2 separate regions of the Homo sapiens genome follow, and region 1 is linked to region 2. The links come from fine-mapping of genetic effects on gene expression. Tissue or cell type: whole blood. Region 2 holds a variant in brackets; the other region holds the start of a gene. All regions are shown on one strand. Distances are from middle to middle.

What was found. PIP is the estimated chance that this variant, and not a neighbour inherited with it, causes the effect.
Region 1: it holds the start of SLC25A4, and the variant in region 2 is fine-mapped to the expression of SLC25A4 in whole blood (INTERVAL, PIP above 0.99).

What each region holds. Positions count from the first base shown.
Region 1 is chr4:185,138,429-185,146,609 of GRCh38, forward strand. SLC25A4 (solute carrier family 25 member 4) reads left to right here and starts at 4,838. Exons shown (of 4, transcript NM_001151.4): 1 at 4,838-5,055; 2 at 6,336-6,822; 3 at 7,331-7,471. The coding sequence starts at 4,945. RefSeq lists a silencer at 4,610-4,909.
Region 2 is chr4:185,110,813-185,118,993 of GRCh38, forward strand. No RefSeq gene overlaps it. Among named protein-coding and RNA genes, the nearest start is that of SLC25A4, 28 kb to the right of the region's middle. RefSeq lists an enhancer at 5,163-5,457. The variant A/G (reference allele first, on the strand shown) is at 4,769.

The DNA.
Region 1 (8,181 bases), 28 kb after region 2:
AACCCTTATTCATTAAAATAGCAAAATATTGTTCTTCAGTAGTACAGATGATAAAAAATAGTCTCTGATAACATTTGTTGCCTACTGATTTTAATAATAGAAATAAAGCATGTTTTTAAAAATGATTGATAGGATATGTGAAACACAAAACACTAGTTCAAAATGTGTTTAGAAAATGGACCCAGTCAGCTCCAGGTGAGTAACGGTTTTATTCACAGAGGTTGCCCGTGGGCAAAACTGGAAGATGCCAGCCTGGAAGGTGTGTGGTTATGGTCGGAAGGCATTATTATGCAAGCATAAACATTAGCTTCGTTGTGTTGTATGATACTCAATGTGCTTGTTGGACTCTTCAACAAAGTAAAGAGAGGTGCTAAGATTGGAAGTGGGAAAAGAAAGGTTCTGAATCTGTCTGGGAAGTGCACGGGGTCCGCCTGTGTCTATCAGGGGTGTGCTACGGGGGTCCCCCAGGCCTCCCTGCCTCCAGCAACCAAGAGGCCAACCTGAATCAGTTTCCCCCGGAAGCAGAGTGCCTTCTAGGAGAAGTCCCTCTGTCTTTTCTATGATTCAAGGGCTCCTCTGCCCCCTCAAATCACCTCCTTTAAATAATAAGGCGCCAAATCCTTCTAACAAAACTTTTTGTTTCACGAACATTCATAAAACGTAAAAAGTACAAGTTCCGGTGGAGGCAACACACTGAAAGTCACTCTGCTGGAAGTACAACCAGAACCCCCTCTTGGGTCCTTGTCCTTGCCAGGCTGCGTTGGAATTGCCTGTAGGCACCACAGCTATGTCTGTTCCTGGCATGTAAGCTTCTCCACATAGCCTGGGCAACATAGCAAAACCAGGAGACCACAGCAAAACCTGCAAATTAAAAAATATATATATCCGGGCATGATGGTATGTGCCTGTAGCCTCAGCTACTCAGGAGGCTGAAGCAGGAGGATCCCTTGTGCCTAGGAGTGCATGGTTTCAGTGATCTGTGATTGTGCCACCGTGCTCCAGCCAGGGTGACAAAGCAAGATGCTGTCTCTAAAATAAATAAATAAATAAATGCACATATAAATATCTTGATCCTCTTCGCTTAATGCTGAAACTTACCATGTGAACAAACACTAGTAGTGTGTTCTAATTCCTAATACTTTAAATGTACACTTGCACACAGGCATTATGTTATCACCACCATTAGCACATCCTTTATTGTTTTTCTTTATTCCTTGTCACTCTTACTCTTTAGCAACTTCCATTCTCTATTCCCAGTTTGGTAAGAGACTAAGTCTATAAGAGCTTCCACTAAAATTCCAAAAGGCTAACTTTCCACCCTGCTCTCATTTCTACATGGCCCTGTTCCCACCAGCATCTAAGATCCCATCCACGATTGAAAGTAGAGTTTCTTCTCATCTCCTAGATGCCTTGTCCATTCTCCTGCTGGAAGAAAGCCACTAAGTACTGGGTTGGGCGGGTGGACACATGTTCTGCCGAGCGCCATTCTCTCCCCTGCCTGTGTAAGTGATACCAGGATCTTGTGACCACAGGCAGCTCATGCTCCCGAGGGCATGTAAGGCCTCTCTTTTCTGAGAAAGTCCGTGGAAGCAGAGGACAGTGTATGAGTTTCCATGGAAAACCTCTTGTCAAGGATTCCAGCTATGACTCCTTCTATAGAACAGGATAACTGGAGAGTAGCCAAGGAGAAATATATCTCCCATTTAGAAAATATCCAAAACTCTGATTGGTAAAATTAAGTGTAACAAAGATGATACTACTTCCTGAATTCATATATTAATTAATATTTAATTTAGTTTAAATGTCTATTTAAAATCTTCTGGTGATGTTTAAACAATTGAACAACTTGATAGTAAAAATAAATCCAGACACATAAGCAGATAAAACTTTATTTTTTAAGTGATTGTAGAATCATATATCAGCCTATTTTTAAAAAATGAAGATCAAATAAATATGTCATAGTGTGGATATTTCATAAATTAAAGCTATTATGAGAACTTAATATATGACAAACTAGACTTAGTAATATAAGACAAATAATGGAGAGAAGAAAATATCTACTTAAGAATTAGTATTGGGATACCCAAGCATGATATGGAGAAAAGTGAAATTAGACCCATACCTCCATACAATATAAAACGTAGTGTTAGACATTTTAAAAATAGCTACTCAAAGTAGAAGAAAAAAACTGATATATGTACTAGAGTAAATAGACTGCTATATCTATAAAAGAGATACATTTACATCAGAACATGAAATAGATCATCATCATACCATAGATCTGTTCATAACACTAATAGAATGATATAATAAATATCAAAAGGAAAACAACAAAATGAAAAACATTCAACACATATTTATTGTCCCAAATATATAAAGAATTGTTGTTAATATAAATACTCTGCTTTCACTCCAGCAGTAGTCAAGGAAGATTAAAAGTTTATACAAAAGGGAAACCTTGTCAAACTGTCAAATTAAATTGAATCATATGGAATATATACAGCTTCATAGTAATTAAGTAAATACAAACTAAAACTCATAAATAACTCACAAATAACCAACTCTCTATTTTTTTAAAGCCAGTGTTGGAGAAGAGTGTGAGAGAAAGCCCATCTATATAACTGGTGGGTTGGTATTTCTGAAGAGCAATTTGTCAATATGTAGCAAAAGCTACAAAACTTTAAAAATCTTAAATCTATCCATTCCATTTGGGAAATATATGAGAAGAAAAAACTTAGAGGAGAAAATGAAGTTTGTGTAAGTTTCAATGTAGCAGTATTAGTTTTCCTTCCTTCCTTCCTTCCTTCCTTCCTTCCTTCCTTTCTTTCTTTCTTTCTTTCTTTTTTTTTTTTTGAGTCAGAGTCTTTCTCTGTTGCCCAGGCTGAAGTGCAGTGGAGTGATCTCAGATCACCATGACCTCTGCCTCTCGGGGGTCTCGTGCCTGAGCCTCCTGAGCTGCTGGGATTCCAGGCATGAGCCATCACGCCAGGCTAATTTTTGTATTTTTAGTAGAGATGGGGTTTTGCCATGTTGGCCAGGCTGGTCTCGAACTCCTGACCTAGGTAATCTGCCAGCCTCAGCCTCCCAAAGGTATGAGCCACCACACCCGGCCTATTTTTCATCATAAAAATAAGACACAATTCTAATGCACAATTAAAAGGAAAATGGAGGTATAAAAGCAAGTGCTCTATATTACAGGATGGGATACAGTACACTATTATAATTAAAAAGGTTTACTGTGTGGATTATGCTGATCCATGGAAATCAGTAAGTGAAGTTTTGATAAAGTGGAGCAAGTGACGAATACACTGAACTGTAAGGTCTTTGGAGATGGGCCACGTCTACTTATATTCAATCCACAGGGCTACACCTAGTTCTTGGTACACAGTACATGCTCAGCAAGAGTCTGTTGAATGAACACATACATGGTTTATCTGTTTGTCTCTTCCGAGTTCTTGACTTCTGTCTGCTCTGACCTCTGGCAGCTTTCCACTAGTTTCTAGCTTTCATTCTGCTTACCTGGATTTCGGAACTCTAGCCTGCCCCACTCTTAGATAAACGCATGCCCTCTGTGGCCCTGGAACCTTAGTGACTTCTGCTATACCAAAGTCTCCACGCCCAGGGTGACACGCAGCTGCAGCTCCGTAAACCTCTAACATGATGTCAGCAAATATTAAAAAAAAAAAGTTTATAAAACAATGAATAAACTTTGTTAAAGGTACAAATGAAAATTAGCAAACATGGGAAGATAATTGAGTGAAGAGTTTAAAGTTAAAAACGAATTGCAGTCATTCTAGGGGAAGGAACAGTTGTATTTGAAAACCTGTATGGTTACATGAACTGCCTAAAAAACAAGCTAAGGAAAATTAAAGCTCAGATTTATATATTTTAAGAAATTAATTGCAATTAATTTCCTGGGATTAAATAGCATTTCCTCAACCCCAGCTGTCATTAAAAAGAGGCAAATACAGCCAAGGACTGGATCTCCGGAAGGCTGACAGCACTGACCCTCAAGAAGGCACCGGCTGACAGACAGAACATTCTGCCCTAATATGTGCTGAAATTCCGCTGAGAGCAGAGTGGTACATTGAACCCTTTAGGGGCTTACAAAAGAAGTGTCCTGTGTTTTAGAGTCACAGAGTTTTGCAGAAACAAGTATGAATTCACCTAGTGGCCCCCTGCACCAGGTCTTTCCTGTGGGCACTGAGTGCCAGACACATCAATATGTAATAGCAGAATGAATGACTGAACGAACGATTGAATGAAAAGAAATGAGAGGCAGCAGGTTGTCAGATTCTATGAGGCAATCACAGCATCAGGTGACCTTAGTATCTATTTGAGAGGACTGCCATTTATTCTCGGGAGCGCACGGCTCTAAAGAGGCCCATATCCAGGCAGTGAGCTCTGGTGGGGGGCGCCTTTAGATGCAAGAAGGAGGAAACAGCTCGAAATCCCTGGGCCTGAGCGCGGCCCGTGCAGGCCGGAGGGTCAAGAACTCTCCACCGGCGGCAGCGGCCCGGTGTCTGCCCCGGCTTCGCCCCGGCCTAAGGCTGCCTGTGCTATAAATACGCGGCCCACATGCCGCGGTGACACGGTGTTCCCTGGGCTCGGCGGGACAGATAACATGAATGTGCCCTTTAAACGTCCCAAGTTGCAGGGACAGCCCCCGGCCCAGCCTCGCTCCCGGAAGCGCCTTCGCCCCCGATGCCCTCTGCAGCTGGGAGGAGGGGGCGCCCCGCACCTGCCCAGCCAATGCGCGGCGCGAGCGCCGGCCGCGACCCGCCTCCTCTCGCGAGAGCCCGGCGGGGATATAAGGGGGAGCTGCGGGCCAGGCGGCGGCCCCCTAGCGTCGCGCAGGGTCGGGGACTGCGCGGCGGTGCCAGGCCGGGCGTGGGCGAGAGCACGAACGGGCTGCCTGCGGGCTGAGAGCGTCGAGCTGTCACCATGGGTGATCACGCTTGGAGCTTCCTAAAGGACTTCCTGGCCGGGGGCGTCGCCGCTGCCGTCTCCAAGACCGCGGTCGCCCCCATCGAGAGGGTCAAACTGCTGCTGCAGGTGAGGACCGCGCGGTGCAAGAGGCGGGCGCGGGCGCGGCGGGCCGGGCGGGGCGCGCGATGCGGCGCGAGCTGCAGGGCGCGGGGCGCCGCGGAAAATCTGCGCCAGGCCACAGGCCCGGGCGCCCGCCCGCCCGCCCGCCCGCCCGCGGGGGAAGAAGGTGCCCTCTGCGTAGAGACAGGTCCAGCGTCAGTCGCAGATTCCTGGTGTCGGGTGGCGCCCGGCGTTCGGGTGTCTATATATGGAAACCCACCCGGAGCCGGTTTACGTGTGCCAGATCCTGCGCCCGTGACAGCACGGGCGTGCACTCAGGCCCGGAGGCACCTAGTGATTGCCAGTATTTTTGGCACCGTCTTATGCGCACGCACCTTTACAATAAAAACATCAAAATAATCATCACCCAAGAATTCCCTTATCGTATCTCATGCACAATGCTGTATGTAGGCTGACGCCTTCATCTTTATGTAACCTCTGTGAGAGAGTTATTCTTCTCCATTTTACAGATGAAGCTGAGGTTTTGAAATATTAAGAAACAATTTTCGGAATAAACTCAGATCATCCTGTCTCCAAATCTTTTCCTCCCCTACCTGGTCGCTGAATGGTTTATCATCCTCTCGTGTTTTCCTCCACCTGCCCAAAAGGTCAGGGCCCCTCAATGAGGAAGAGCCCAATTTGGGAGTCAGAATTACTAACAACAAAACCCCCACAAATTGCTCACAACGGCAGCAAACCCTTAATAATTGATTACTTGGATTATCTGCTTGAAAACTTTGGAGGCCTAATGTTTAGTGGATTTATTCTCCTTCCTCTATTAGAGCATCTAGTAGAGATCCTCATCTCCAGGGTGATCAGAGTGACACTGAGAAATTGTCATTTTTTGGCCATCATGTCTATTAAATCCAAAGCCCTTTGAAGCAGGGAGTGTTACTCATTTCTGTCCCCCAGTAAGCCCCTCATACAGTTCTCAAACCTAGGGAAAGTGAAATAAATAAATGGCTATAGCTTTATATAATTCAATCACCTTTTCAGTTTATTTGGGGCAATACCTTTTCCCTCAAATACCCTAATAATTGAAGCAACATTGGATTATTTTGGCTTGTTATCCAGTAACTAACATGGATAACAGTATCCATTTACACGTCCTCAGTATCCATTTGATTTCCTCATCCTTTTTTTCTTCAAAAAAAAAATCTAGGAAGTGCAAACCTTTTTTTTTCTCCTGTCCTCTTCCCTTCTCTCTACCCTGCCTGTCCTCTGTCACCCACCCTCCCCTCCACCAGGTCCAGCATGCCAGCAAACAGATCAGTGCTGAGAAGCAGTACAAAGGGATCATTGATTGTGTGGTGAGAATCCCTAAGGAGCAGGGCTTCCTCTCCTTCTGGAGGGGTAACCTGGCCAACGTGATCCGTTACTTCCCCACCCAAGCTCTCAACTTCGCCTTCAAGGACAAGTACAAGCAGCTCTTCTTAGGGGGTGTGGATCGGCATAAGCAGTTCTGGCGCTACTTTGCTGGTAACCTGGCGTCCGGTGGGGCCGCTGGGGCCACCTCCCTTTGCTTTGTCTACCCGCTGGACTTTGCTAGGACCAGGTTGGCTGCTGATGTGGGCAAGGGCGCCGCCCAGCGTGAGTTCCATGGTCTGGGCGACTGTATCATCAAGATCTTCAAGTCTGATGGCCTGAGGGGGCTCTACCAGGGTTTCAACGTCTCTGTCCAAGGCATCATTATCTATAGAGCTGCCTACTTCGGAGTCTATGATACTGCCAAGGGTGAGAGAGGGGCATCGGGGAGAAGGAGGGTGGTGTGGAAAGAGGATCCTATGGGATCTATAACTCACAAAGGACCTGATATATATTGATCTTGTTTTTTCTAGTCTCTGGGATAATTGAGGCTTCTGAATGAGGAGGTGATGTGCATAAGTTAATAGCTGAAGCGTTCCTTGTGTCCTCTACTGAAATAAACTCTGGCCTTTAGTTATTCAGAGAGGAGGAGGGGGGAGCCTGTCTCCCTCTAGACACAGCCATAGCAGTTACTGAGTTTAACTTGAAGCCACTTCCAATGCCCTGTATACAAGCTGAGCACTGCCCCTCCGGGGTCCGGAGAGGGCAGCAGCCACCTTTGCTGTCTGCCTGGTCATATGTGAAGCACCTGCACAGGGGCAGGTTCCCCGCAAGGTCAGAGCATGGAGCTGGAGGTGCAGTGGCCTCTCTCCCTCCACCTGCTTTCTGCTGAGAACAGGCACTTCATAGCCGTTCGGCTTCTGGGCTCTGTCCACAGGGATGCTGCCTGACCCCAAGAACGTGCACATTTTTGTGAGCTGGATGATTGCCCAGAGTGTGACGGCAGTCGCAGGGCTGGTGTCCTACCCCTTTGACACTGTTCGTCGTAGAATGATGATGCAGTCCGGCCGGAAAGGGGGTAAGCTTGTGCTCTACTCATCTAAACTTGTTTGGTTTTGCCCGAGGAGAACATTTTACAGGGCTCCTTTCAGTCTTCCTTACTGGAAATTAATTTTCAAAATTATTTGATAAGGACTTAGGGAAGAAAGATGGTATTAATTCCCCCTAACGTTCTCAACTATCCTATTAGGGAAAAGTATTTTCCATTTTATTAGAGATGATAAGAACATGAATAGTAAGACATTTAGATGTGAATTTAACTAGGTATCCAGCATTATAGAGACCCTAGGCCCTCTTCCCTTAGAGCCTGGGTGCAAAAGCTAGGGAAAAGAAGTAGTTAGCTACTTCTTACAAAGAACTCTTGCTTCCCTCCTAGTTACAGGTGTTAGTGGGATGGGGTGTTTAGCTGGGTAGAGATGGCCTGAAGCAATCTGTTGTGCCAGAGAAAGTTTTGGCTTCTATAGGTTGAACCATACGAAATTGCCACTTTAAAAGTCAAAAACAGTCCAATGTTAGCAGTTTCGTATGTTTCAACGAATAGTTACAGCCTTTTATTTAGACTGCATAACCTCGTGCAGGATCATCTGAGGCTCGGCCTCAGTTCGGTCCTCCATAAAAAAAGGTAACCGCGTAGCATAATACTCCTGCTCCACTGCGCCCTTCTTGTTTCGCAGTTGGGCAGTCCATGAATTACTTGGTTAATTGCCCCAGTTCTTCACTGACCTTGAA
Region 2 (8,181 bases):
GTGAGTGGATCACAAGGTCAGGAGTTCGAGACCAGCCTGACCAACATGGTGAAACCCAATCTCTACTAAAAATACAAAAATTAGCCAGGCATGGTGGCACGTGCCTGTAATCCCAGCTACTCAGGCGGCTGAGACAGGAGAATTGCTTGAACCCGGGAGGCGGAGGTTGCAGTGCGCTGAGATCATGCCACTGCACTCCAGCCTGGGTGACAGAACAAGACTCTGTCCCCCCAAAAAAAAAAAAAAATAGGCAATAGGTTCTACTGTAAGGGGACACGCAGAGAGGAATAAAAGCATGGAGAAGGGGTGAGGAGATCCTGGTGGAGATGAGGAAAGCATTCCTGAGGAAATGAGGGCTAATCTGAGATTTGAAGGATGAGAAGAAGATGTCTTTTTTTTGTTTTTTTCGGCTAGTCAAGTGAAGCAGTGGGAGTGGAGAAGGAACAAAGAAATCCTTAACTGGTTGTGACTGCACTCGGACCACCTGAGAAGAAGATATGAAGACAAAAAGAAGGCACGGACTTTCTGTTCGGAACATGTGCAAAAGTCTAGGCAATATAAAGCACGCTGCTTAAGATGGGGGAATAGGACACCCACATATGCTGAGGCGGTGCCAGGACCAGGATAGCAGAGGGCTCTGGAACCCATGTCAGTGAGCCTGAACATCTTCCTGCGGGTAGGCTCCTTGACATGGGTTCCAGAGCCCTCTGCTACCCTGGAACCCATGTCAATGAGTCTGAACATCAGTAGGAGAGTCACTAGAGAGCCTGAGTGTAGAGTGGACAAGGTTAGATTCAATTTAAGAAGACCTCTCTGGCTTCAATGTGGAGGATGGATTGAAGGGGCTCACTGCTGGTTGAGGCTGTGACAGTGGGCTCGGTGAGACAAGCACGGGCATAGCCTGTTGTTAATAATGTTGTATTTATAGTTTTTGGCTTAAGACTTTTTACTTAATATTTCATATTTAGGGTTTTCCCATTTCATTAAAAATTCATTGTAATCATTTTTAATACCTGCTTGGCATTTCATTGTATGGATAATCCATGATTTATTTAACTACTCTTCTATTTTTAAAGGTTGTTTCTGTTTCTTAGTCTAGAATGAGTAGAATTAATATTTTGGTACAAGGATTCTTGTCCACATTTTATAAATATTTTCATAAATATTAAGATTATACTAATCTCTTGCATCAGATGGCAGAAGAGGTGGCGGCAATGTTACCAAAGGAGTGTGTGTGTGTGTGTGTGTGTGTGTGTGTGTGTGTATAAGCAGTATTGCTTTGTCCTACCTAAATTGCAGATCTGCCAAAGAAGGCATAATCTAATATATTCATCCCCTATGTTGCATGGGGCAGGGAAGGCTGTGGGTTTGCACTACATAGCACATTGTTCTATCCAGGCAAAAGGTCAAGCGCTGTAGAAGGCCAAAGCTAAAAATACAGTGTGGCACTGGGGAAAATGAAGGAGCTGTCCAGGGGAAATGAGTCATACTGAATCAGTACCTCTCCTCCTATACACAGCAGTAACCTCCTCAGCTAGGGAAAGCAGACTGGTTCTTACATGAAAGTGATTTCAGGTCAGGCCTGGTGGCTCATGCCTGTAATCCCAGCACTTTGAGAGGCTAAGGTGGGCAGATCACCTGAGGCCAGGAGTTCGAGACCAGCCTGGCCAGAATGGCAAAACCCCCATCTCTACTAAAAATACAAAAATTAGCCAGGTCTGGTGGCACACATCTGTAATCCTACCTACTCGGGAGGCTGAGGCAGGAGAATCGCTTGAATCTGGAAATTGGAGGTTTCAATGAGCTAACATTGCCACTGCACTGCAGCCTGGGTGACAAAGCCAGACTGTCTCAAAATTTTTTAAAAAAAGGAATTTTAACAATAATACCAATAATTTTGGTAACAACATGGAGTAATTTCATTCCTATAGCACTTTTGTTCCTAGAGGTCGACTGCTCATGGACCATCCGTGGACCAGGATACCCCTTGTCCGTTAGCATAGGGTCTCCGGGAAGACAGCACCACACACGGAAGGAATCGAAGGAGCTGAGCCTCCCTGAACATTTCTCACTGGGACTGGTAGGACTCAGTGGATTAGAAGAATGGCATTCCCAGTCTAGAGGGGCAGGCAGTAACCTGTGTGTGGGCATTGAGAGAATATGGTACATGATCCCTGTCATTGCTGTGACCCTGGAAGTTTCTCAGGAAATCCAAATAACTAATGCCAGTTGGACTGTTTATAAGGTTTCCTCTCTTCAGGAAATCATCAAAATATTCTTTCAGCTGCCAGGCCAACTTCTTCAGGACTGAAAGAAAATCTTTCTTTTCAACCACAGAGAGAGAGCAAACAGCCATTGCTAGTTGACAAAGTTTGGGGAGTGGGAGGTGGTTTTATTTTGTTTTTGTAAACAGGGTCTCCCTATGTCACCCAGGCTCGTCTCAAACACCTGGGCATTTGTGAGAGACCTCCCTTCCATGGTCTTCCCCAGCCCTATTTGTCAGGATTTTTAACACAAGTGACTCCAATTTTGAGTCCGTCAACTTTCACAGATAAAAATTATTAAGACTGATAAGCCCAAGTGTTGACAAGTGTGAGTGGGCTAAATTGTATTCCCTCAACATTCATATGTTGAAGTTCTAGCCCCCAGCACCTCAGAATGTAACTGTATTTGAATATAGAGTCTTTGAAGAGATAATTAAGGCCAGGCATGGTGACTCATGCCTGTAATCCCAGCACTTTGGGAGACTGAAGTAGGAGGATTGCTTGAGGCCAGGAGGTCAAGACCAGCCTGGGCAACATAGTGAGACCTTGTCTCTATAAATAAATACATTTGGATAGAGTTAATTAATGTGAAATAAAATATGGTTATTAGGGAGGGGTTCTAATCTAATCTGACTCGTGTTTTTTAAGAAGAAGAAATTAAGACACAATGCACACAGAAGGAAGACCATGTAAAGACACAAAAAGATGGACACCTGCAAGCCAAGGAGAGAGGCCGCAGAAGAAAACCAACTCCAGTGACACCTTGATCTTTGACTTGCAGCCACCAGAATTGTAGCAAATACATTTCTGCTGTTTAAGCTACCCAGCTAGTGATACTTCGTTTTGACAGCCCTAGCAAACTAATACAGCTAGAGATTTTATTAGTCCATTCTCATACTGCTATAAAGAAATACCTGAGACTGGGTGATTGACAAAGAAAAGAGGTTTAATTGGCTCACAGTTCCACAGGATGTACAGGAAGCGTGGCAGCTTCTGCTCGGCTTCTGGGAAGGCCTCAGGAAACTTACAATCATGGCAGAAGGCAGAGAGGCAGCAAGAGCATCTTACATGGCTGGATCAGGAGGAAGAGCGAGAGGAGGAAGAGGCTGCACACTTTTAAACAACCAAATCTCGTGAGAACTCACTATCGCGACAGCAGTTCCAAGGGGGATGGTACTAAACTGCCCCCATGATCCAATCACCTCCCACCGGGTCCTACCTCCAACATTGGGGATTACAATTTGACATGAGGTTTGGGCAGGGACACAGATCCAAACCATGTCAGAGACATACAATACGGGAATTTTTACACATTGCTGGTAAATAAATGGGCACATTCATTTTGGAGAGACACAAGCCCCAGTAGCCAAAAAATCCATTTGAGTTATCTATTCTAGAGAAAGTCATGCAAATGTGCCCCAAAAGACATACGGAAAGCTGTTCAGTGTAGCATTTTATCTCACTGTGAAAAAAATGAAACTAACCTCCCCTCAGTGGAAAATGGCTAAACTGTGGTTCATTCACACAATGGAATTCCACAAGACTGTTAAAATGACTAAATGTGCCTGCATCTATCAACACGGATAAATCTCAAAACCAACGCTCAGTGAAAAAAGAAAATTGCAAAAATATTTGTACAACGTGATATCATTTATATGTAGTTTTAAAACACAATTGTCTATATTGTTTATGCACATATACATATGTGTAAAAGCACAAATACACACATGAGCATAAGACGCATGTAAGATAATGGTTAAGAGCACAGACTGTGGAGCTCCCTCACCAGTTATATAACATTTGATAACTTTAATCCCGTGCCTCAGTTTCCTCATGTGTAAAATGGTTTTGATAATGAAAGTGCCTACCTTATTGGATCATGGGGAAGATTACATTAGAAAATGCATACAAAATGCTTAACTCAATACCTGGCTCATAGTAAATGTTCAATAAATATTATATTATACTATTGTTTAACAAACATCCACTCCAAAACTCATGGTGAAATTTGTCATTGTGATGGTATTGAGAAGTGGGAACTTTAAGAGGTAGTTAGGTTACTAAAGCTGTTATTGTGGGAATGGGTTCATTATCATGGGAATGGGTTTGCCAGCTCTTACAGTCTCTCTCTTTCTCTCTCTCTCTTTCTCTCACCCTTTCACCCTTCAGCCATGTTATGATGCTGCAAGAAGCCCATTGCCAGATGCTGGTGCCTTGACACTGGACTTCTCAGCCTCCAGAACTGTGAGCCAACAAATGTCTATTTGTTGTAAGAAATCTTACTAGATAAGGGCCGGGCGCGGTGGCTCACGCCTGTAATCCCAGCACTTTGGGAGGCCAAGGCGGGCGGATCACGAGGTCAGGAGATCGAGACCATCCTGGCTAACACGGTGAAACCCCGTCTCTACTAAAAATACAAAAAAATAGCCAGTCGTGGTGGCAGGCGCCTGTAGTCCCAGCTACTCGGGAGGCTGAGGCAGGAGAATGGGGTGAACCCGGGAGGC[A/G]GAGCTTGCAGTGAGCCGAGATCGCACCACTGCACTCCAGCCTGGGCAACAGAGCAAGACTCCGTCTCAAAAAAAAAACAAAAAACAAAACAAAACAAAAAACTTACTAGACAAATATTAGCTTATTAGTAAATAAATAATATGGTCAACTGTACAGGCAATCAAATATGAAAAAAGTAAAATAAAATTGAGTTACTACTTTTGGCAAAGCTTAATTTTGAAATAAGGGTACTTTGATAGGTAATATACTATGATAGGCAGCTTCTAAACGGCCGCAGTGATCCCATCTGTTGGTATTCATGCCCTTCCTTGTGTAATCCCCTTCCCTGGAATATGGGCCGGACGTAGTAACTTGCTCTGACAAATAGAATATGACAAATTGATGGAATATTACTTCCAAAATGAGGTTCTAAAAAGACTGGTGCTTCCTCCTCGGGCACTCTCTCTCATTCTGTTAATCTGAGGGAAGCCAGCTGCTATGCTGTGAGCTGCGCCGTGGAGAGGCCCACATGGCGAAGACCTGATAACATCTGGATGATAGCCAATGAGTGAGCTTGGAAGTAGATCCTCCCCCATGTGAACTGGGAGGTGATTACAGCCCTGGCAAGCAGCTGAACTTGCAGTCTCATGAGAGCTCCGGGCCAGAGACTCCCAGCCCAAATTCCTGACCTCCAGAAACCATGAGAAAATAAACGTTTATTGTTTTAGGCTGGCAAACTTCTAGGTAATTTTTTACGCAGCAATAGATAACCAATACACCCAACATAGGCCAGGGCGAAAGCTAACGCTGATGTGCATATGTACTGTTAGTAATAAGGTAAATTGGTGTAAGTTTCTGGAGAGCGGTTTTAAAAATATTCCTAAAGATAGTCACAATTATGTTTTGCCTGAAGGAAATAAATGAATAAATATTTAAGTATATCCATTAAAGTCTTAAACATAGTAAATATAATAGTGAATAACTGGTAATAATTTACCAGTTTGGGGGAATTGTTAAATTATAATATATCCATTTGATAAAATCTTAGGTGGATATTAAAATTCATGTCAAAAATCTAATTAATGATCTGTTGAAATGTTCATGACATAATGATAACAACATTAACAAAATAATAATAATTGAGGATGATCACAAATTTTGTTTTATTTATATTTAAAAATTTGTTAACCAACATAATAATAGTGTTGATCTGAGTGATGACATTATTAGGTGATTTACATTTTCTTGATTATATTTTTCTATAGGTTCCAATTTGTCTATAATAAATATATGTTTTTTAATCTGAAAAATCCTCAAATGTAAAACAATGGAATGTGGGCCAAGTATAATTCTTAAAATACATTTACTTTTTGCCTCTTTTTTTCTGGATCATGTTTTTCAAGTTCTCTCAAATTCCTAAATTCTTCTCTGAACTTTTCTTTCAGTCACTTCTTTACATCAAGTAGCTCTTCTTGTTCCTCTGTTCTTGGTTTTTTGTTTTGTTTTGTTTTGTTTTTTAGCATGGTCTATAGATAAAACTGAAGAGGGAAAAGACCAAATGTTTACTTACTTTAAAATCATATAAAAATCCCAAAAAGGTAATTTTTTGGCAAGAAGTAGGTTTGACCCTTTGCATAAAGTATTATTTTACTTTGGGAAATAAAGATTTAAATCACTTTGCATATAAATCTAAAATATACCTATGCATATCAGATTTTTTTAACCTGGAGTCCATGAACATCTAGGGGTTCACTTAATTTGAGGTATCCTCAAATTATGGTCTAGCTTTTTATTTCTTCTTTGTAATCCATCAGCCTTTGGTAAGGTCTTTTTGAACCCTCAGCTTTGTCTCAGCTGCGCCTTGGAGTCTCCCAGGAGGGCCCTTAGGCCACAGCTGGGGAAGCCTCCCATGGTGGGTGTGGAGGTAGCCGCAAGGGTCGATGAGAAGCCAAAGCTGAAGTGACTCTCAGGGGAACAGAGGGAGAACTTCTCAGCCTGGCTTCTCTGCCTCACCTGGGAGATTCTCTTTTTAGCGTTCACCTTGAAAATTCTGACTTTGTTTTATTAAGAAAGGTGATTTTTTTATGATGTACACATACTTTATAATGTCAAAGAATAAACATGTGTGGCTTGCCTCATCTGTTTAGTTTTTACCTGAAACCTCTGCATTTTTTGATGATTCATTGTGATCTTCTACTCCCAATTTTTTAAGAGTTGCATCTCTATTGAGAACACCTATTCCGTTCTCACCATACCATTAATGGAAATGATACATGTGGTTTCATATGTAATGTGGTTTAATATGTGTTTTATGACACTGACAAGTTCCTTGTCTAGCGATGGCAAATGTGAGCTATGTGGGCTGCCGATTTCTCCTCCTGGGTGCCTATCAGACAACACTATTCAACACAGCATTCTTCTTGTTGAGCCCAGATTCAGCCTCAGAAGTTTTCCCAAGTTCTACCAAACACTTGGCAATGGTATGCCGTATGAAATATATTTATTTATATATATGTATACAGATATATATACACACACATAATAGATTTGTCTGTTTTATTATGTTAAAAATGAAAAATTCTTTAGAACTCCTTTGTCAGACCATGTGTCCTGAGTTTGGATTTGAAAAAAATATTCTCATTGTATGCACACCACATATACTCTTGCATGCGTAATTATGGTGAAATACATCAACTGCTCATGCTTTGCTCTTAGTAGGAAATTACAGGGACAGGTCCTGGCCCTCTGGGCTGTGTGATTTCACAGGCTGATTCTCTGAGTCAGGCCCAGACAGAATATGTTTGGGCCTGACTTTGTCACCTTTGTAATTTTTGTTTTTTTTGTTTGTTTGTTTTGTTTTTTGAAACAGAGTCTCACTGTGTCACCAAGGCTGGAGTGCAGTGGCACGATCTCAGCTCACTGCAACCTCCGCTTCCTGGGTTTAAGCAATTCTCATGCCTCAGCCTCCCGAGTAGCTGGAATTATAGACATGTGCCACCACGCCTGGCTAATTTTTGTATTTTTGGTAGAGACAGGGTTTCACCATGTTGACCGAGCTGGTCTCACACTCTTGACCTCAGGTGACCTGCCTGCCTCAGCCTCCCAAAGTGCTGGGATTACAGGCGTGAGCCACCACGCCCGGCCTGTTATCCTTGTAATTAATAACTAATGTTCTTAGCTACTTTCCCCTTCCACTGAATCTCCCTCTTTCTTAATCAAGGCTTGGAGAGGTCTTTTTTAAAATTCTAGCCTCAATATCGTTCTTTCATCTACTGAGCTATTCCATGGTATGAGATCCAGGAACCTGTTTTCAATAAAAAGAACAATGGATTGGCTAAAATGTGAAATATGTTTCACTACAGATATATCTGTACTGTATATAGACTCCCATTGGCTTTTTCTTTTGCTAATAAAACATGTTCATTTTGATTGT